Linked DNA regions of Homo sapiens: regions 2 and 3 are each reported to be linked to region 1. The links are microRNA targets in miRTarBase. Many come from high-throughput screens and were not tested one by one. Region 1 holds a microRNA gene; each other region holds the end of a gene's coding sequence.

The links. Region 1 holds the annotated microRNA hsa-miR-4762-5p (CCAAAUCUUGAUCAGAAGCCU, at 3,205-3,225, opposite strand). A microRNA usually pairs through its seed, bases 2 to 8, with sites in the 3' UTR of a target mRNA and lowers its output. Matches are read on the target gene's strand: a 7mer-m8 pairs with bases 2 to 8, a 7mer-A1 pairs with bases 2 to 7 and ends in A, and an 8mer does both.
Region 2: the mRNA of KLF10 is a reported target of hsa-miR-4762-5p. Seed matches in the 3' UTR shown: 8mer at 2,130-2,137.
Region 3: miRTarBase lists CERKL as a target of hsa-miR-4762-5p. Seed matches in the 3' UTR shown: 7mer-A1 at 5,151-5,157.

What each region holds. Positions count from the first base shown.
Region 1 is chr22:45,756,636-45,763,756 of GRCh38, reverse strand. MIR4762 (microRNA 4762) reads right to left here and starts at 3,233; the gene lies at 3,159-3,233. All of the region lies in intron 9 of ATXN10 (ataxin 10), which reads right to left. RefSeq lists a silencer at 654-948 and enhancers at 513-1,106, 5,092-6,090.
Region 2 is chr8:102,644,386-102,651,506 of GRCh38, reverse strand. KLF10 (KLF transcription factor 10) reads left to right here. Exons shown (of 4, transcript NM_005655.4): 3 at 1-358; 4 at 1,116-2,723. The coding sequence ends at 1,375. Among named protein-coding and RNA genes, the nearest start is that of KLF10, 7.8 kb to the left of the region's middle.
Region 3 is chr2:181,532,480-181,539,600 of GRCh38, forward strand. It overlaps CERKL (CERK like autophagy regulator), which reads right to left. Exons shown (of 13, transcript NM_201548.5): 12 at 6,613-6,785; 13 at 4,193-5,765. The coding sequence ends at 5,705. It overlaps ITGA4 (integrin subunit alpha 4), which reads left to right. Exons shown (of 28, transcript NM_000885.6): 26 at 1,793-1,891; 27 at 2,337-2,456; 28 at 2,953-6,461. The coding sequence ends at 3,048. Among named protein-coding and RNA genes, the nearest start is that of ITGA4, 79 kb to the left of the region's middle.

The DNA.
Region 1 (7,121 bases):
TACATTCTAGGGTTGCGAAGAGCAGAGCAGACAAAACCAACCACAAATGTGCCTGTAAATGCATGCATATGAAGACAGTCTGACCTGTGGCAGTGAAGGAACAGAGAAAAAGGCAAGAGCCCAACCTGGGGAAAAGGAAGGGCCCAAAGAGCAGGGACAGAGAGGTGGGGGGCGTGGTGGGGTCCGACTTTTAACAGGTAGGGGGCAGGAAAGACCTGTGAGGAGATGAGCAAACACCTGAGGGTGCAGCAGCCACACACTCTGCAGACCTGGGGCTGGGGAGAGGAGCGCAAGCACAGAGGCTCAGGCAAGGAGCCGCCTGTCTCCTGGCAAAGCGAGCGAGGGGCCAAGTCCAAAGGCCTCAGCTTGAACTCAAAGGCCTTTCGTAACCTTGACGAAACCTTCACTCCCACTCAGCCTCATCTCTGAGGAGCCCTCCAAGTCTCTCCAGCCAGTTCCCTCGTTCCTTCCTTCTCTGCCTTGAACACGCCAGGCCCACCTCACCACCTCACTCTCTCCAGCTCTCCAGATTCTCCCACCACCTCCCTGCCCCCAGAACACTGCCCGGCAGCCCTCCCCAACTGAGAGTCACCAGGGTGAGGGAGAGGGGGTAGGAAGGCCACAGAAACATCATTTCCTAGGCCTCCTTCCAGATGAAAATGCTGTAGCCACAGCCTCCTACTCCAGGAAAAGGGACCACGCAGTTCTTTGCGCAGGAGAGGCCATGGCTTTACAAAGCGCTTCTTAAATGCTTCTGTGCATTCCAATCCCCTGAGGATGGTCTGATTCCGGATGCTGGGGTAGAGCCTGAGACTCTGCATCTCAGACAAGCCCCTAGGTGATGCCTCTGCAGTCCACAGTCTGGGCTGTGAGGGACTACAACAGGGATGGAGACAGACCCAAGGGAAGCCACGCAATTACTCTCACTTGGAATTTGGAGCCAAAACACAGGGGGAAGGCATCTGTCAGTGGGGGCTCCACAGCAGGGAGGGGAGGATGTGGAGAGATGGCTGGGGCCATGTGAGGTCACCAGCCTGGAGACAGGAGTAAGAGTGAGGTGGCCTCTGGGGGACCAGGAGGCAGTCCCTGAGGCCTGGAAGCCCCTTGGTTCATGCTCTGGGAGTCTGTGCTCTCCCTGTGGCCTAAACACATACACTCTTGCCCAGCTTCCCTTCAGCCAGCTGGAGAGCGAGGAGGAAGCACCCTGGCCAGACAGGAGCATGCCTGGGAGCCTCCCAGGAAGACACAACAGGTGTGCAGACACAGGTTCGGCTAGGGTGGAGCCCACCAACACTCAGCCAGAACATGCACCGTGGAAAGAATCCTGCTGCTGTGGTCTGCTTCTGACTGAAATCAACTGCTTTATCTGCTATCTATCATAACAAAGATAAATAAAAAATGAGATGTAGTCATGAAGCGGGAGTGCCTACCCTGGGTCAGGCCCTCTGTCAAGCAATGCAAAGACAGAGAAAAATAAGCCGAGGTCCCTGCGCCTCCAGAAAGAAACGCACGCTGGTCAGGGGAAACAGACAAAGGGCAAATAAATAGAAACACAGTCTCGGAAACGCACAGGGGACAGAGACTGACTTCCTTTCTACCTGTAATGTCAAGCTTTTCACTTTTTCTGCAATTGTTACAAGTAAAATACTATCTTTTATGAGTAACTTTTGTTGGTTGGCTCACTTAAACCATAAAGTGAAGTAAAAACATATGACTAAATAGGAAGTTTTTAAAAATCAGAAAACCTGGGAGTCAGAAGGCTCTTAAAGGCGAATATGGTCCATTCACCTGCTTCAGTTAAGACCACAACTACTTCATCCCAGTCAGATGTGTTTTTTTTAAAAGCCAGATTATACTTTAATCTATTTAAGTATAGTTTCAGCCCAACTGCACTGAAATCAACCTTTTCTGTTTTAGCCAACATTTTAAAAAATCTAACACAATGGTCTAATTTTTTAAAATTTTAATTAAAGGCCCATTTAGAAAAGTAACCAACTTTTGATATTCCCTGAGGTGGAACTTAAAACAGATTTTAATGTAACTGCTAACAAGGACTAAGCAAAAACTGGGAAGAAGTGTATGATAAAAAAATAGATAAATAAAGAGCAAAGGCTTGCATAAAATGTTCCAGTCACTGGATTATAATGCTTCGTTACATTTGATTTTTACCTTTTCGAGATTATACCTATGATACTGTATTACAATTTAACCAGTTATCACCTAGTCTTCCATAAAGGTTGGTGAGAAATGAAAATTAAGTAAACACAGTATTACATAAGTGCTTAGAAAAGTTTAACTGTGAAAACAATGAACAGATTTAAAAATATTCATTTGTTCATCCCTAAAAGTTTACAGAGCACTCACTGTGGGCCCGGAACTGTGCCAGGGGCCCTGGAGAGAATGAGGAGCAAACAGACATGGAGCTTACATGCTAGGCTTGTAGTGTTTTAGATGGTAATACAGTCTCTGCTCAAAATCACCAATATAAAAACATTAAAGTCCCAGCTACTTGGGAGGCTGAGGCTGGGGAATCGCCTGAACCTGGGAGGTGGAGGTTGCAGTGAGCCGAAATCACGCCACTGCATTCCAACCTGGCGACAGAGCAAGACTCCGTCTCAAAAAAATAAAATAAAATAAAATACTGAGGTCACCCTTGAAAACATAAGCCAACAATGAAAATTCAACTTCTTTCCCAAAAGGAAAACAACAATAATGAAACAGAATAAGCTACCTGAAAGAAAGCTTCCTCTTTCATTACTCTTTATCAAATTACTGTCTCTCACATATGTCCTTTTATTTCCAGGCTTATCACCACCCTCCAACCAGGCCTCCACTGCTGTAGCAACCTTTTAACTGGCTCAGGAATCCACTCCGCACACTGGGGCTCTTATCAGTGAGGATGGGCTGGTTCGTGCTGCAGTAACAAACAATCCACAAAAATCTAAGAGGCTTAAAATGAAAGTTTCTTTCTTTCTCATGCCACTTAACAGCTGTGTGGCCTTGGGTACACTACTGAACCATTCTGGCCCTCAGTCTCCTCATCTGCAACATGGGAGAGGTATCATCATTAAATGAGGTAAGAGACGAATACTCAGAACTGTGCCTAGGACACAGGACACACTCAATAAGCAACTACTATTGCTGTAATCGTTGTTATTCTTGACACCACAAATCTTGATCAGAAGCCTTCCTAGCTTCTGATCAAGGCTTCTGATCAAGATTTGGGGTATCAGAAATAATGGGATATGACTACACCCTATCATCTAGCCATCTGTCTCCCACAGTAGATCATGAGCTACTTGAGAACAAGGACTGCCTCTGACTCCACTGTTGAACTGCAGAGGTTCACAGAAAGTGGCACATGGTAAGCACTCAGAAAGTGCTTGCTGCACTAAAGGGAACGATGTTGAATAATAATCACTGGTACGTGAATAAACCCCACATGTGCTGGACATACACAGAGTCCCATATTAATGAGGGCACACTCTCAGATGCATCTGGCCCGCAGGAAACCTGACTAAAAGCACATGATGAAGATAGGGAATGTCATCTGTAGGTGGGAAAGATGGCTTTACAGGCCCAGAACCAAGCCACAGTTGAGCTAGGCCACCAGTACATGGGCTACTGCTCCCAGGGAAGTCTAAGCAAACGAAGGAGGATGTTCCACGTTGTGGAATTAGCACAAATCTATCTCCACGTGGGGAAAGAATGTAATTCAAGATTCCCCCTGTTCCTCCTTCCTTTCTTAGGGCCATCATTCCCCTGCCCCATGCTCTCCTGGCACACTGGCACACAACAGCCAGCATGGAAAAAACTTTCTGAGGGGATAGAGGTGCTCTCTGTACCTTGACTGGGGTGATAATTACACAGGTGCAGACATCTGTCAAAACTTATCAGCCATTCATTAAAAATCTGTGTTTAGCTGTATGTAAATTAGAAAGAGAGAGAAGCAAGCGATGGACAGTGCTGACTGTTATATGGTCCCTTAGCTCATGCCGGCAGCTGAGGTGTGACCCCATCCCACCCCATCCCCTACAAAACTAGAGCTTTATGAAGGGCAGGGTGGCTGGGAGGGAGGAGCTGATGCAGCTTGGTAAACTGGCCTCTGGAGGACATTATGAAACCTTGCTCATCCTCGTGCAGCCTCAGCTCCCTCAGGAGGCCTTTCCTCCTGCTTCATGGCACAAGAAGAGTACGGAACCCTCACCCTGATCAGACTGCTCTAGAATCTTTTTTGTTTGTTTGTTTGACACGGAGTCTTGCTCTGCCCAGGCTGGAGTGCAGTGATGCTATCTCGGCTCACTGCAACCTCTGCCTCCCGAGTTCAGGTGATTCTCCCGCCTCAGCCTCCCGAGTAGCTGGGATTACAGGCATGCGCCACCACGCCCGGCTACTTTTTGTATTTTTAGTAGAGACAGGGTTTCACCATGTTAGCCAGGCTGGTCTTGAACTCCTGACCTCAGGTGATCCGCCCACCTCAGCCTCCCAAAGTGTTGGGATTACAGGTGTGAACCACCATGCCCGGACTCTAGAATCTTTTACTATTTATCATTGTCCCTCTAAGCTTCAAGTTACTTGAGGGTGAGGACCTTTTCTTCCCCTTCCTTCTCTCCAGCACCTCGCATAATGCTTGGCACACAGTGTGCTCTTAATCAATATTTGTTTCTCTGGCAGTAAGTTTCTAAAGTTATCTTTAAAGATATGAGATATACTGCCTTTAAATAAGAATGGTACTTCTAAGTAAGAATAATGTCTAAATTACATTAAATCTTGTTAACTCTAAAGATTTAAATCTCTTCTTTTTTGGAGAGGTATGACTCCTACTGTCATGATTTATGACTCCATAAAAGCCATGTATTTACTGGGCAGAATAAACGGTAAGCTTGGTATGCATAACACAGCACTAGAATTCTTGCTATAAAGATTACTGATGCCTCAGGCTGTTATAAACGAGATGTCACATGAAGCTATGCATCAAGAGCTTGCCCTGAAGACAAAAACATCGCATACTGCTCTATCAAGTCCACGTTCAGTTACAGCTCCTGGCGCTCCGCAGTGGCTATGTGTATGCACATGTGCGTGTGCAAACACATGGCCAGTGTGTTTAAATGAACACCTGGCAACCCAAAAACAACATCTTAAAGATAGCTGTCAGAGCATGAAACATTGCACTAACCAGGAACTTCCATGGTTGTGGATTAGCAGAATAACACATCAAAGCAACCTTGAATTACGTGTGATATGCCTTAGGAAACTTCAGTTTCTGATGACCAATAATTTGAATCTAATCTTTTGAACCAAAAAGAATTATGTATTTTGTTCCAAGCACAAAGTCAGTGGCTATAGCTCAAGCCATGAATATGTAATTTCCTAAAAGTAAAACTGGTTTTTCTGAGTCTTCATATGTATTCTAAATGGCTAGAGAAGCCTGCAGTTAACAATGGTGGTGCTCCATGGAGGCACTGGTGGTCTGTCAAGTACCTATGCTTTCCACACGCTGGCTCAGCTAACTCCAAACAACCCTGCAGGGAGACTGTGGCCCTGCTCCACAGCCGAGGGACACGAGCAGTGTGGACGACTCTGAGCCAAACGTCAGGCGGGAGCTGCGGAAGCTCAGGACAACAGGGGCTGGCAGGGGCAGGGTGTGGAGGCAGCACCAGGTGTCCCCTACCCACTGCACGGGGCTTCCTGACGCCACTGTTCTGGTAACGAATAGTTGCATCCGTCTCTGCCATATACTTTGGAAGCATCAAATTTAGTTTGAATTTGTGTGTCATCACAAAAGCTCAACTTTTTTTCTTCTTTTACAAATTTCAAAAGAAGTAAATAGTATCCACAGCAGAGGTCCAATAAATGCCAATTTTATAAATACAGGCTCAACGAATATGACTGGAGAAAGTGTGCCAGAGTTTATTTCTCTAATAAGTCCAAGTTGAATCATGTAAGAAAAGTACTAATAGAGAATAATTCTTAAAAGAGAATCAAACATGAATGAATATAACTCTAATCACATTTTTAATAAATATAATTTCAAAACAATATGACTTATAAGGTCAGCATATGAAAAATGTATTGAATCCTATGTGTATGTAAAAAAAATTTTATCCCATCCATATTTACTAATACTGTACTAATGTTTTTTTTTTTCTAAAATGGCTAGAAATGATTTTTCAAGATTAAGAACAAATCTATCTTAGAGAATACAGAGAAAGAACCCATTTCTTTCTCCCTCCAAAGTACTGAATGAAACATCCACACCTCCCTTTGGAACATTCTCCAGAGGCCTTGAACGGGGAGCAGCGAAATCCTGAATCCCAGCCTGGGCTCCCACCTCGGAGCCTCAGGCATTTTCTGTCCCTGCTCCCAGCCAGCAGGCGCTGCTGGGCCACACTGTTAGAATCAGCTGGTATTGCTCCAGTTACACTGAAGCTCTGAGGCATTTTTGTTTTGTGTGGGGCTAGGGGAGGGAGGAGGGTGTAGCTGAAAGTCGCCAGGGTTGGAATTCCAACAGGCAAAGGACACGCCCTCTCTTCGAACTGCTCCAAGGCCGCCAGTCGGATTTTTCCTGTCAACACCCCCGCCACCCACCTCCCCATCAGACTCCCCAGTCGTCCGCCTCCACAGCCCCAGCCCCAGGCAGTCCGTCCAGAGCTGCAGGTGCAGACCAAAGCCATTCCTCCGCAAATAGGAGGAGGGCACAGCCACTTGGGAAAGCATCTGGAACCGTGTCTCTCGTCTGGTTCTTCTCCACTCCTTCCCTCTTCCTCAGTTTCCACGTGCTGATGGAGTGGGATTCACACGATGAGAAATCAACTCCAACTCCCTCTCTTGCCCCCAACTCTGCCATGGAAATGATTTCATTTAAAGGTTCCTCTTGGATTTTTCCAGTGGATATATTCAATATTATCACTAAAACATGTCAAATAAATACCAATGAATCATTCCCAGAAAGTAGTCTCACATTAAACCAATTATTCAATGTCTGAGAGTAATATGAGCTAAGTGCAGCTTGTAGAAGGATTTGTAACATAAGATGTACAATAATACAAAAAGTTCAACCTGAAAAGGACAATCACAACCCCCATCCCCACCCCACAGTAAACTCTGAAGGGCAGTTTCAG
Region 2 (7,121 bases), not on the chromosome of region 1:
ATGGTTCCCCTTCCTGCCAACAACCCTGTTGTGACAACAGTCGTTCCCAGCACTCCTCCCAGCCAGCCACCAGCCGTTTGCCCCCCTGTTGTGTTCATGGGCACACAAGTCCCCAAAGGCGCTGTCATGTTTGTGGTACCCCAGCCCGTTGTGCAGAGTTCAAAGCCTCCGGTGGTGAGCCCGAATGGCACCAGACTCTCTCCCATTGCCCCTGCTCCTGGGTTTTCCCCTTCAGCAGCAAAAGTCACTCCTCAGATTGATTCATCAAGGATAAGGAGTCACATCTGTAGCCACCCAGGATGTGGCAAGACATACTTTAAAAGTTCCCATCTGAAGGCCCACACGAGGACGCACACAGGTACCAGCCACTTCTTATATCTTTAGTGTTTAAATGAAGAGATTTTGGCTGTGATCACACATTTAAACCCAGGATGATAAGGAATAACTTGCCTTTAGCTAGTTTAGAGGATGGTATTTACCAGTGCAAGGTCCTCCAAAAGGCTGTATTGGAGGCCGCTCACGAGTGCCATAATCCTTGCACTTTAGGAGACCAAGGTGGGAGGATTGTTTGAGCATAGGAGTTCAAAACCAGCCTGTGCAACATACTGAGACCTCATCTCTACAAATAATTTAAAAATAAGTATGTAAATACTTTATTGATGTGCTTTTGTTTCAGTCTCTCAAATGATGATTCTGTAGATGTCTGAGTAGTTACTTTAATAAGGTATCTTTAAAGCCTTTGAATCATAGTTAAAGTCAGGAAGTCTTTTCATTTTTGGCTTTTTTTAAGGGATGAAAAAAAACTGCTCTGTTGCCCAAACTGGTCTCAAACTTCTGGGCTCAAGCTATCCTCCTGCCCCAGCCTTCTGAGTAGTTGGGACTACAGGTGCCTACTACTCCACCCGGCTGCCTTATTTCATGTGGGGAAGAGTTTTGTAAATGTGATCAAGTGACAAGTTGAAATTGGAGCAATACATATCTCATATTCATTTGACAGTTTGATTTATTAGCTTTTATTATTTAAAATGTATCTTCTCATATACTTTTAGACAGAATTGAACATATAATTTACGGCAATCTTATGCATAATAATGATTTGTATGTCTTTGTTTTAGGAGAAAAGCCTTTCAGCTGTAGCTGGAAAGGTTGTGAAAGGAGGTTTGCCCGTTCTGATGAACTGTCCAGACACAGGCGAACCCACACGGGTGAGAAGAAATTTGCGTGCCCCATGTGTGACCGGCGGTTCATGAGGAGTGACCATTTGACCAAGCATGCCCGGCGCCATCTATCAGCCAAGAAGCTACCAAACTGGCAGATGGAAGTGAGCAAGCTAAATGACATTGCTCTACCTCCAACCCCTGCTCCCACACAGTGACAGACCGGAAAGTGAAGAGTCAGAACTAACTTTGGTCTCAGCGGGAGCCAGTGGTGATGTAAAAATGCTTCCACTGCAAGTCTGTGGCCCCACAACGTGGGCTTAAAGCAGAAGCCCCACAGCCTGGCACGAAGGCCCCGCCTGGGTTAGGTGACTAAAAGGGCTTCGGCCACAGGCAGGTCACAGAAAGGCAGGTTTCATTTCTTATCACATAAGAGAGATGAGAAAGCTTTTATTCCTTTGAATATTTTTTGAAGGTTTCAGATGAGGTCAACACAGGTAGCACAGATTTTGAATCTGTGTGCATATTTGTTACTTTACTTTTGCTGTTTATACTTGAGACCAACTTTTCAATGTGATTCTTCTAAAGCACTGGTTTCAAGAATATGGAGGCTGGAAGGAAATAAACATTACGGTACAGACATGGAGATGTAAAATGAGTTTGTATTATTACAAATATTGTCATCTTTTTCTAGAGTTATCTTCTTTATTATTCCTAGTCTTTCCAGTCAACATCGTGGATGTAGTGATTAAATATATCTAGAACTATCATTTTTACACTATTGTGAATATTTGGAATTGAACGACTGTATATTGCTAAGAGGGCCCAAAGAATTGGAATCCTCCTTAATTTAATTGCTTTGAAGCATAGCTACAATTTGTTTTTGCATTTTTGTTTTGAAAGTTTAACAAATGACTGTATCTAGGCATTTCATTATGCTTTGAACTTTAGTTTGCCTGCAGTTTCTTGTGTAGATTTGAAAATTGTATACCAATGTGTTTTCTGTAGACTCTAAGATACACTGCACTTTGTTTAGAAAAAAAACTGAAGATGAAATATATATTGTAAAGAAGGGATATTAAGAATCTTAGATAACTTCTTGAAAAAGATGGCTTATGTCATCAGTAAAGTACCTTTATGTTATGAGGATATAATGTGTGCTTTATTGAATTAGAAAATTAGTGACCATTATTCACAGGTGGACAAATGTTGATGTTGTCCTGTTAATTTATAGGCGTTTTTTGGGGATGTGGAGGTAGTTGGGTAGAAAAATTATTAGAACATTCACTTTTGTTAACAGTATTTCTCTTTTATTCTGTTATATAGTGGATGATATACACAGTGGCAAAACAAAAGTACATTGCTTAAAATATATAGTGAAAAATGTCACTATATCTTCCCATTTAACATTGTTTTTGTATATTGGGTGTAGATTTCTGACATCAAAACTTGGACCCTTGGAAAACAAAAGTTTTAATTAAAAAAAATCCTTGTGACTTACAATTTGCACAATATTTCTTTTGTTGTACTTTATATCTTGTTTACAATAAAGAATTCCCTTTGGTATATGGAATGGTCATTGCATTTCTTAAAAACCATTCTCAACTCTCACCTTGACATTGATCACTTATATTATCCAAGGACTTAGTGTCTGAATTTCTCTAAGGGTCTCATTCAAATTTAGAACTGTAGGAGTATGTCTTTAACATGAATCCATTTAGAGAGTATACAAAGTGAGGCCAAATATCTATTTGGTGAGGTAATATGTGAACCAGCCAGTTCTAAGAAAACACATTTAATTTTTAAACATTGTTTTTTATTTTTCAAGACACAGTTTCACTCTGTCACCCAGGCTGGAGTGCAGTGGCATGATCTCAGCTCACTACAACCTCCACCTCCCAGATTCAAGTGATTCTCCTACCTCAGCCTCCAGAGTAGCTGGGATTACAGGTGTGCACCACCATGCCCGGCTAATTTTTATATTAGTAGAGACGGGGTTTCGCCGTGTTGGTCAGGCTGGTCTCAAACTCCTGACCTCAAGTGATCCGCCCATCTTGGCCTCCCAAAGTGCTAATTTTTAAGCATTCTTGAATATTTTGATATTTAACAATATTTTGATATTAACGAAATCTTGTTAAGTAGTATTCAAGTTAAAGGGAACACCACAGTGAATAATTACAAGCAATGAAACTGCCGTGGCAAATGAAAAGAAGGCTGACTTATTAAATAGCGAGTAAATTGCTTACCTCTAGAAGTTAGACAATTAAGTGATACCTTAAATGCAATAAACATATTGGTACTTAAGCCTCATGAAAAGTAATCCACCTCTGAAGAGAAACACTTGTTAGTCACTCATCAGTGGAAGGAACTAAGGGCTGTAAATGCTACTTGGTGTATAGAGTATAATTTTGTAGATTACTATTTTAGCTTGCACTGAAATCCCCTTGTGGTCAGGAGAACATCTTCCACAATGCCCAACTTAACCAGTGACCTAGAGTCTGCCTCATTGTTGAATAAACACCATGGTAAGGGACCGTGTACTCACTTGGCAGCAGTTGTAGGACAGGTTTCTCAGGACATCTGTACACCTGTTGCTACTTTTCTTGGAAACTTAATACCACATGAGTATGACATAGCTGCTGGAGAGAGGCTTTGCCATTCTGGCCTCTGGTGTAGCTTTGGTGTTGGGCACCTGGACCATCCTCTTGCTTTAGAGCTTTTCATGGTGGCAGGTGTCCAGAAGTGGGAATGGAGGAAGATGACTGAAATATTCTCTGCCTCCCCCAATGCTCAGTCCCTTGTAATGATGTGGCCCATGAAACTATGCCACCCGTTGGCCGTATTCTTTGCAGTCCTAGTTGGTATCTGAGATCTTTCCTTAGGAATCTTGTAAATAGAGTTACTGTTTTTGAGTTGAACGTTGAAGCAGGATCTAATTTTTTTTTTTTTAGACAGAGTCTCACTCTGTTGCCCAGGCTGGAGTGCAGTGGCATGATCTCAGCTCTCTGCAAACTCTGCCTCCTGGGTTCAAGTGATTCTCCTGCCTCAGCCTTCCCAAGTAGCTGGGATTACAGGCGCCCAAAATTAATAAGTTAAACTTGGTACAATACTATTAAGTTTTCATAAGGATACTAAAATGGAGAAAAGTTGAAGCAGAAACACCTTTTTACTAGCTTAATTTTTTACTAGCTTTTCTACTTTTTCCTATTACAGGACCTAATCCAGGATCTCAAATTGCATTTAGTTGTCATGTCTCTGCAGCCTCCTCCAATCTGTAGTAGTTCCTCAGTCCTGTCATTTGAACATTACTTGTCAGTTATTTTGCAGAATGTCCCTTAATGTGGGTTTGTCTGATGTTTATTCATGATTAGATTGAGGCTATGGGGTATGTGGGAAAGATGCCCCAGAGTGATAATACCCTTCTCAGCACATCTTACCTACGAAAACATGGTGTCCATATGCACTCCTGATGCTGCTAACCTCACTCACTTTGGCTAGGGTGATATCTGTTGGAATTTTCCACTGTAAATTTACCATTTTTCTACTTATAATTATTAAATATGTAGAGGGACATACTTTAAGATTATGCAAATAACCTGTTTCTGCTTACACTTTTCCCCATTTATTTTAGTGTCCTTATGGAAATGTTGCCTGGGGCAATTATTACTGTGATATGCTAATTTCCTCATTATTTATTAAGTTGGAATTCTGTAAGAGTTGTTTCTTCTCCATTTATTCAGTTTTTTTAAATGTCAGCATGGACTTGAATATTTATCTCATTCTTTGAGTTGTAACACTATACTTAATTATTTTGTGACTCATTTGTCCCACCTTTGGCCCTTGTTAGCTCTTTCAGTATTCAACCACTTTTAATAAATGAAGATGAAAATTTTATATGGTTCAACCTATCATTTCTCACTGGAACGAGAGCTGTTTGGTATTAGTAACTACTTTTTTAAAGTGTTTTCTACCTGCGTTGCTGCCACCCTGTCTAATCCAGCATCTCTCACTCAAGCCAGTGCAGCCACCCCTAACTGGCCTCCCTGCCTCTGTCCTGTCTTCTTACTATCCAGTCTCCTCACAACAGAGTCTTTTGAAAATGCAAACCTGATAATGTCACTTTTCTGTTTAAAACACTTCAGAAATCTCCCAATGCTCTCAGAGTCAAGTCTAGGTTTTATAACATGGTCTAGAACAGTACTGTCTAATAGAAATATAATGTGAGCCATATGTAATTTGAAATTTTCTAGTAGCCGCATCAAAAAAGTAAAAAAAAAAGTTTATATTTAAAATTTGTATTTAAAAAACATTTAATTTAATGTTCGTGGTAATCTTTGAAATCTAGTCTAGTCTCAGTAGGGACTAGCCTCATTCCAAGTGCTCTGTAGCCACAGGTGGCTGCTGCAGTGGACCGAGCAGGTCTAGAAGACCGTGCACGTTTAGGCTTCTACCAACCTCCCACCACACCACTTTCCATCTTGTACTCTACATTGTGTCCAAGCTCTGAGCCTTCCTATGTGCTATGTCTTCTGCTGGGAATGTTTTCCCTGCCCCCCAACCCTTTTTTTCCCCCCCAAGACATAGTCTCACTGTTGCCCAGCCTGGAGTGCAATGGTGTGATCTCGGCTCACTGCAACCTCTGCCTCCCAGGTTCAAGTGATTCTCCCGCCTCAGCCTCCCGAGTAGCTGGGATTACAGGTGCCCACCACCACACCTGGCTTATTTTTGTATTTTTAGTAGAGAGGGGGTTTCATCATGTTGACCAGGCTGGTCTTGAACTCCTGACCTTAGGCGATCCACCCACCTTGGCCTCCTAAAGTGTTGGGATTACAGGCATGAGCCACGCACCCGGCCTTCCCTGCCCTTTTACCTTGACATTTCCACTGTCATAATAATCATTATTACCCTTTACTTCATGTCTTTTTTCCCCTGACTGTAAAACTTCATGAGGAAAAGCACCCTGTGGGTCTAGCTCACTGCTACATCACCAGCATCTAGCACAGTCCCTGACACGTAGCACAGGCTTAACAATTTTGCCAAACTGAAAGTTGAGCCGTGAAGAGGCCTGTGCAATTTTAGGGAGGGAGAACAACTAAGAAGTTGTTACATGCAGGATATAGAAAAAGGAGACGAGAAGCTGAAGATTGCCTTTTTCTTGTTCCCATTATTCTTTGCTAGTGCTGGAAGGACCATTTATTCCACCTTCCAGACTCTTAAAGAGTCTCATGGCATTTGAATTCTCTTCATTGCATTTTTAAGGGGGCAGGGAAGAAATCTGATCAAGACACATACACTAGGCTCACTAAGTCCCTTCGTGTGAGTCTAATGCTTCAGCCTGGAAGGGCTGAAAAGTGTTGCCTTGGCTCTTACCCTACCCTTTCTCTTTAGAAGACTTTCAGAATAAGGCAGAGACAGAAATGGAGACTTCCATCAAGGGCACTGGACATCAGCAGAGCCCTGGAACTAGATGAGATCTTCTGGGCAACACCTTAAGGGAATTTTATTCTGATGCCTTAATCCAGTCCTGGCATTTTGCTGACCAACTTAAGCAGAGCTTGAGAAATGATAAAGTTGATTTTCGAAGAGCACTGCCTCTAATTTTTTACACAGGTAACTGTGCCCTGGAGGTGTCAGTATCAGGGAAAGATCAAAAGATCAAAATGATCAAATTAAAAGACCTGGTATATTAAGGTTCTCCCAGAAAAATAGAACCAATGGAACAAACAGAACATGTATACATATGTATTCCTTATATGAAACTGAATAAAAGGAATCAGGTCATGTAATTATGGAGACTGACAAGTCCCAAGATCAGCAGTCAGCCAGCTAGAGACCCAGAAGAACCAAAAGTGTAGTTCTAGTCCAAATGCCAGCAGGTTCAAGAACCAGGAAGAGTCTATGTTTCAATCTGAGTACAAAGGCTGGAAAAAAAATAAAGTCCCAGCTCGAAGGCAGTCAGGTATC
Region 3 (7,121 bases), not on the chromosome of region 1:
AAGTTGGATTCCTAGGTATTTTATTCTGTTTGTAGTGAATGGGAATTCACTCATGATTTGGCTCTCTGCTTGTCTATTATTGTATACGAATGCTTGTGACTTTTGCACATTGATTTTTGTATCCTGAGACTTTGCTGAAGTTGCTTATAAGCTTAAGGAGTTTTGGGGCTGAGACCATGGAGTTTTCTAAATATACAATCATGTCACCTGCAAACAATTTGACTTCCTCTCTTCCTATTTGAATACCCTTTGTTGCTTTCTCTTGCCTGATTGCCCTGGCCAGAACTTCCAATACTGTGTTGAATAGGAGTGGTGAGAGAGGGCATCCTTGTCTTGTGACGGTTTTCAAAGGGAATGCTTCCAGTTTTTGCCCATTCAGTATGATATTGGCTATGGGTTTGTCATAAATAGCTCTTATTGAGATATGTTCCATCAACACCTAGTTTATTGAGAGTTTTTAGCATGAAGGGATGATGAATTTTATTGAAGCCCTTTTATTTTAAAAATATAGCTAAGAAGAAAAACTAAGGCTTTCATAAAATCAAATAAAATCAAAATTCAACAACAAAAACATATTTAAATTTTAAAAATAATGAAATATATCTTGGACTTTTTCCTACAAAGGAGCATGTATATTTATGAGGAGTAGTTTGAGATGAAACTAGTTTTATGTGGAGTTCTGTTTTTCAGCTTTCTCATCTGTTCAATATGGATAAATGAGATGATTTTTATAAGCACTTAGTTCATGGAACATAGGAAGCCAAAGGAAATGGCAGCTGTTATGTTCAAGTGGAATTCTTGAAATTGCCAAACAGTGCTTAAGAGGAAGATACACTAGACAGGCAAAGAAGAAATATCCATTTTAGTTTCAACTGTGCTAAAAGCAAAGTCATTGAACCATCAGCAAGTCATTTAACCTTTTGCAGTTTGCCTTATCTTTTTCTCTAGGTCTAGGTTTTCCATCAGTGGCCATAATTGGCATTTTGAACCAGATAATTTTGTTTTGGGGGGTTGTCCTGTGCATTGTAGGATATTTAGTATCATCCTCAGCCTCTATACGCTCACTGCTGGTAGTACCACCTCCCACGTTCTGACACTTGACAGTTTCTTTAGACATTCCTGACTGTCCCTTAGGTGATAAAACCCTCCCTGCTGAGAACCACTGCTCTAGATCTATAGGAAGCTTGTCATTTTTGGCTCTAAAATGTTAAATAACATTTACACAATAGTTTTAAAGGTCATATCCCTCTTTAAGAATCTGACTAAATATATTCTCATCTCCCTCAGCAAATGCACACATGAAAACATCTCCTAAAGATTCTTAGAATTTATAAAGCCCTTCTACAGATCCCCAAGCTTCATGGATTCTGCGTTATAAAATCCTTGCTTTAGATAGTAAAGTTCTGAGTTCATCCACTGATTTTATATTTGAATTCTATAATGTATTTAATTTAGAAAGAAATAAAAAGCCCAAATAAGATAGATTCAATATGCGGTGGTGGGGTGGAGAACAATGGTAAATGGTAACTTACCTCTTTCTGTAGTCTAATATTTAAATCAAGTTATTTGCAAGGTAGCTGTTTAATCAAAGGATTTCAATAAAATGATACTATATAAATTAATACCAAGACCACACTTTGGGAACCAAAGGAGGCACTGCAGTTAATTTTAAGTGGTGAAATAAATTGGGGAAGGTAAATTGTGAAAACCTCTAGCTAGAAGGTAAAGATCCTGATAAATTATGTCTTTATGAAATAAACCAGGCTATGGTGATCCTTCTTTTATTAAACAGGATGAGACTTCAGCACTCAAGTTTGAAATAAGAGCAACAGGTTTTCCAGAGCCAAATCCAAGAGTAATTGAACTAAACAAGGATGAGAATGTTGCGCATGTAAGATTACCCTCTTAACTGCTACATTAAAATTATAGGAAAACACATTTCAAGGGTGTCTATAATTACTTCCTTCTGAGTAACTGAGTTGGGAAAGTAGAGTGTGACCAGCTCATGGAGGGCCCCCAATACTTGGTTGAGAGTTGGCATTTTCCACAACTGGCAGGAGGGAACAATACAGCAGTTCTTTCAGAGAGGTGAATTGGGCAGCAGTGAGAATTGAATAGATTGGAGGAAAAGTCATGGATACAGCCCATTACACTCACTGTTTCTGCTAAACAGTTACCAGTGTTTCCTGCAATTATATTAGAACCAGCAAGAAAATGGGCTGGGCAGTTCTAAATACTACTGGGGATTATGGCAGGGCTTTAAAGGAAATATAAGCAACGTTTTAAACTGATTTTTTTTTTTGGTTTTTGAGTTTTATTTTTCTTAACTCACGTAGGTTCTACTGGAAGGACTACATCATCAAAGACCCAAACGTTATTTCACCATAGTGATTATTTCAAGTAGCTTGCTACTTGGACTTATTGTACTTCTATTGATCTCATATGTTATGTGGAAGGTAAGCATTTAACAATTACCAACATTAGTCTACTAAAAATGACATTTTCTCAAAGCCAATTTGACTTCCAAGTTATTAGATTTAAATATTTCACTATTTGAATGTTAACTTTTTATGTTGCTCAGTACTGATCTCACATTTCTCTTCAACACCAAAGTCTTTCTAGAAAAATATGCATTCTTAATTTGTTTTGAAAGACAGACGTTCCTTTTAAAAAACCATTTGGAAAAGATTGCAAATTACACGGAATGTCAATTTTGGAGAGAATGTGGTGTGTATCACTGAGAATTTCTGCATTAAAAACAAAAATGTTTCTTTAACCCAGTATGTCCCCACTAATTTTTACTGATTACCTCTGTTAAACCTTTATGACTGATGTTACAAGGGATGCAGTTTAAGAAATATTGGTGTTAACTGCTTAGATATTAGAAATGAGTATAGTAGATAAGAGAGTGTTCATAACTATACACTAGTGATTATGTTATGCTATTTTCAGGCTGGCTTCTTTAAAAGACAATACAAATCTATCCTACAAGAAGAAAACAGAAGAGACAGTTGGAGTTATATCAACAGTAAAAGCAATGATGATTAAGGACTTCTTTCAAATTGAGAGAATGGAAAACAGACTCAGGTTGTAGTAAAGAAATTTAAAAGACACTGTTTACAAGAAAAAATGAATTTTGTTTGGACTTCTTTTACTCATGATCTTGTGACATATTATGTCTTCATGCAAGGGGAAAATCTCAGCAATGATTACTCTTTGAGATAGAAGAACTGCAAAGGTAATAATACAGCCAAAGATAATCTCTCAGCTTTTAAATGGGTAGAGAAACACTAAAGCATTCAATTTATTCAAGAAAAGTAAGCCCTTGAAGATATCTTGAAATGAAAGTATAACTGAGTTAAATTATACTGGAGAAGTCTTAGACTTGAAATACTACTTACCATATGTGCTTGCCTCAGTAAAATGAACCCCACTGGGTGGGCAGAGGTTCATTTCAAATACATCTTTGATACTTGTTCAAAATATGTTCTTTAAAAATATAATTTTTTAGAGAGCTGTTCCCAAATTTTCTAACGAGTGGACCATTATCACTTTAAAGCCCTTTATTTATAATACATTTCCTACGGGCTGTGTTCCAACAACCATTTTTTTTCAGCAGACTATGAATATTATAGTATTATAGGCCAAACTGGCAAACTTCAGACTGAACATGTACACTGGTTTGAGCTTAGTGAAATTACTTCTGGATAATTATTTTTTTATAATTATGGATTTCACCATCTTTCTTTCTGTATATATACATGTGTTTTTATGTAGGTATATATTTACCATTCTTCCTATCTATTCTTCCTATAACACACCTTTATCAAGCATACCCAGGAGTAATCTTCAAATCTTTTGTTATATTCTGAAACAAAAGATTGTGAGTGTTGCACTTTACCTGATACACGCTGATTTAGAAAATACAGAAACCATACCTCACTAATAACTTTAAAATCAAAGCTGTGCAAAGACTAGGGGGCCTATACTTCATATGTATTATGTACTATGTAAAATATTGACTATCACACAACTATTTCCTTGGATGTAATTCTTTGTTACCCTTTACAAGTATAAGTGTTACCTTACATGGAAACGAAGAAACAAAATTCATAAATTTAAATTCATAAATTTAGCTGAAAGATACTGATTCAATTTGTATACAGTGAATATAAATGAGACGACAGCAAAATTTTCATGAAATGTAAAATATTTTTATAGTTTGTTCATACTATATGAGGTTCTATTTTAAATGACTTTCTGGATTTTAAAAAATTTCTTTAAATACAATCATTTTTGTAATATTTATTTTATGCTTATGATCTAGATAATTGCAGAATATCATTTTATCTGACTCTGCCTTCATAAGAGAGCTGTGGCCGAATTTTGAACATCTGTTATAGGGAGTGATCAAATTAGAAGGCAATGTGGAAAAACAATTCTGGGAAAGATTTCTTTATATGAAGTCCCTGCCACTAGCCAGCCATCCTAATTGATGAAAGTTATCTGTTCACAGGCCTGCAGTGATGGTGAGGAATGTTCTGAGATTTGCGAAGGCATTTGAGTAGTGAAATGTAAGCACAAAACCTCCTGAACCCAGAGTGTGTATACACAGGAATAAACTTTATGACATTTATGTATTTTTAAAAAACTTTGTATCGTTATAAAAAGGCTAGTCATTCTTTCAGGAGAACATCTAGGATCATAGATGAAAAATCAAGCCCCGATTTAGAACTGTCTTCTCCAGGATGGTCTCTAAGGAAATTTACATTTGGTTCTTTCCTACTCAGAACTACTCAGAAACAACTATATATTTCAGGTTATCTGAGCACAGTGAAAGCAGAGTACTATGGTTGTCCAACACAGGCCTCTCAGATACAAGGGGAACACAATTACATATTGGGCTAGATTTTGCCCAGTTCAAAATAGTATTTGTTATCAACTTACTTTGTTACTTGTATCATGAATTTTAAAACCCTACCACTTTAAGAAGACAGGGATGGGTTATTCTTTTTTGGCAGGTAGGCTATATAACTATGTGATTTTGAAATTTAACTGCTCTGGATTAGGGAGCAGTGAATCAAGGCAGACTTATGAAATCTGTATTATATTTGTAACAGAATATAGGAAATTTAACATAATTGATGAGCTCAAATCCTGAAAAATGAAAGAATCCAAATTATTTCAGAATTATCTAGGTTAAATATTGATGTATTATGATGGTTGCAAAGTTTTTTTGTGTGTCCAATAAACACATTGTAAAAAAAAGAATTTGAATTGATATCTAAAAACAGAATTTGAATTGATATTTCATCTTGACTTTTAAAGCCCTAGAGGCTAATTGTTAGTAACATCAATTTCTATTAGGATATCCGTTTGGCCACACAGCAGGAGGTTAGAGCAATGGAGCATTACTGAGTTCCTCCCCCTGTCAGATCAGCAGCAGCATTAGATTCTCATAGAAGTGCGAACCATATGGTGAACTGGTATGTGAGGGATCTAGAGTGCCATGTTCCTCAAGAGAATCTAATGCCTGATGATCTGAGGTGGAACAGTTCATCCTGAAACCATTCCCCCATCCACGGAAAAATTGTCTTCCATGAAACTGGTCCCAAAAAGGGTGGGGACCACAGGTTTAAAGCATGGCCACATTTCTTTATATTAAAATTCTAGTTTGTACATTTCTTTTAGAAACAATTACATGTTACTTTGGAATCATTTCTTCCATGCTTCCTCCATAAAGACTGATAAGTCTTGGATGCAATCTGTAAAGAAAATACATTATTTCATCAACTTATTTTGTTGTTTTTCACATACACCTAATAAGTATGGTACACAATGCCAATGCCAAATACAAATTGATAACAAACACAGCATTCCCAACAGAGCTGTAATCTAGAAAACTGAGAAGGTCTGATTGATAAATCATCAACAACAATAATTGCTCTAAAACCTCCTTAACTGACTTCCTTGATTGTCCAATGCTCTCCATTACCTCTGTAAAACAGTCAGTTATGCCTCTAGAACACCCATGTCTAGTGGGCACCCCTGCATGCTTCTTCTAACCACTGAGTGTCACAATGCCTACCAAGAATGCGTTTGCAGGTTCCTAAACCTGTTTATACCAGTTGCTATGTAAAATTGTTCCCAAGGGAAGTTGAATGCTCTGTAAAGGCCTAATAAAAGCAAATTACTGAACAAAACATGTTACAGTAATTATGAGTGAGAGGAAACTAAGATGGAAGGATAAAAATCTAACACTTTACTATTCAGATGGCTCCACTAAAAGATTTAAGATCTTGATCCATTTTTAAAAATCCAAAATGGAAGTTGTAGACATTATCTGTAGTTTATGCACAACAATAAATTAGAAAGCCAATGTAGACACGCATAACCAAAGAAAATGCCTTGGGTCTACATAACAGTTGAATAAATGTAAAGTTGCTTTTTATTTATTGAAATTTGTGCATGTCTCTTTATGCTTCCCTGATTTACTGATTTTTTAAAAACTAACCAACTGCCTGCTTTGATAGTTCAGAGAAGAGAGCTTTCGTTGTAATATTAGATTTATGTTTACTGGTTGACAATAAGCGGTGAAATAAATAGACTTACCTAATATGGACCTCTGATGCAACTTCCATTAAGTCACCATCTACATTCCAAGGGAAACAATTTTCTGAAGCAGTTTCATCCTCCTCCTCCTCTGGATTATATCCACCAGTATTATTCCTTGGATGAACTTTTACTTCCTCAACAGTGTAAGTCTCAACAAATGGAAAATTGAACTAAAAATAAATACAAATAATCATTATACTTGGTTTATCTCTAGCTACTAACGCGAATCAAAGTTCACTGAGCCCTCTCTCACAAGTAAATATCAGCATGTATGCTGACATTTTAATAGCTTTGAGACTATGAACAGGGATCTCCAACTTTTTTTGGAAGAAGGAATCTCTTATCCAAAGCCTTTTGGGTTCTTTTAGATCTAGCACCTAGAAATCTTGTTTTATGACAAATAGTACATATCTGTGAGAAGTTACATAAAATAGTGATACTGTAGATTTTTCAATTAAAGATAATCTTTAATACTGGCCTGTAGATACAGAAGACATATAATCCAT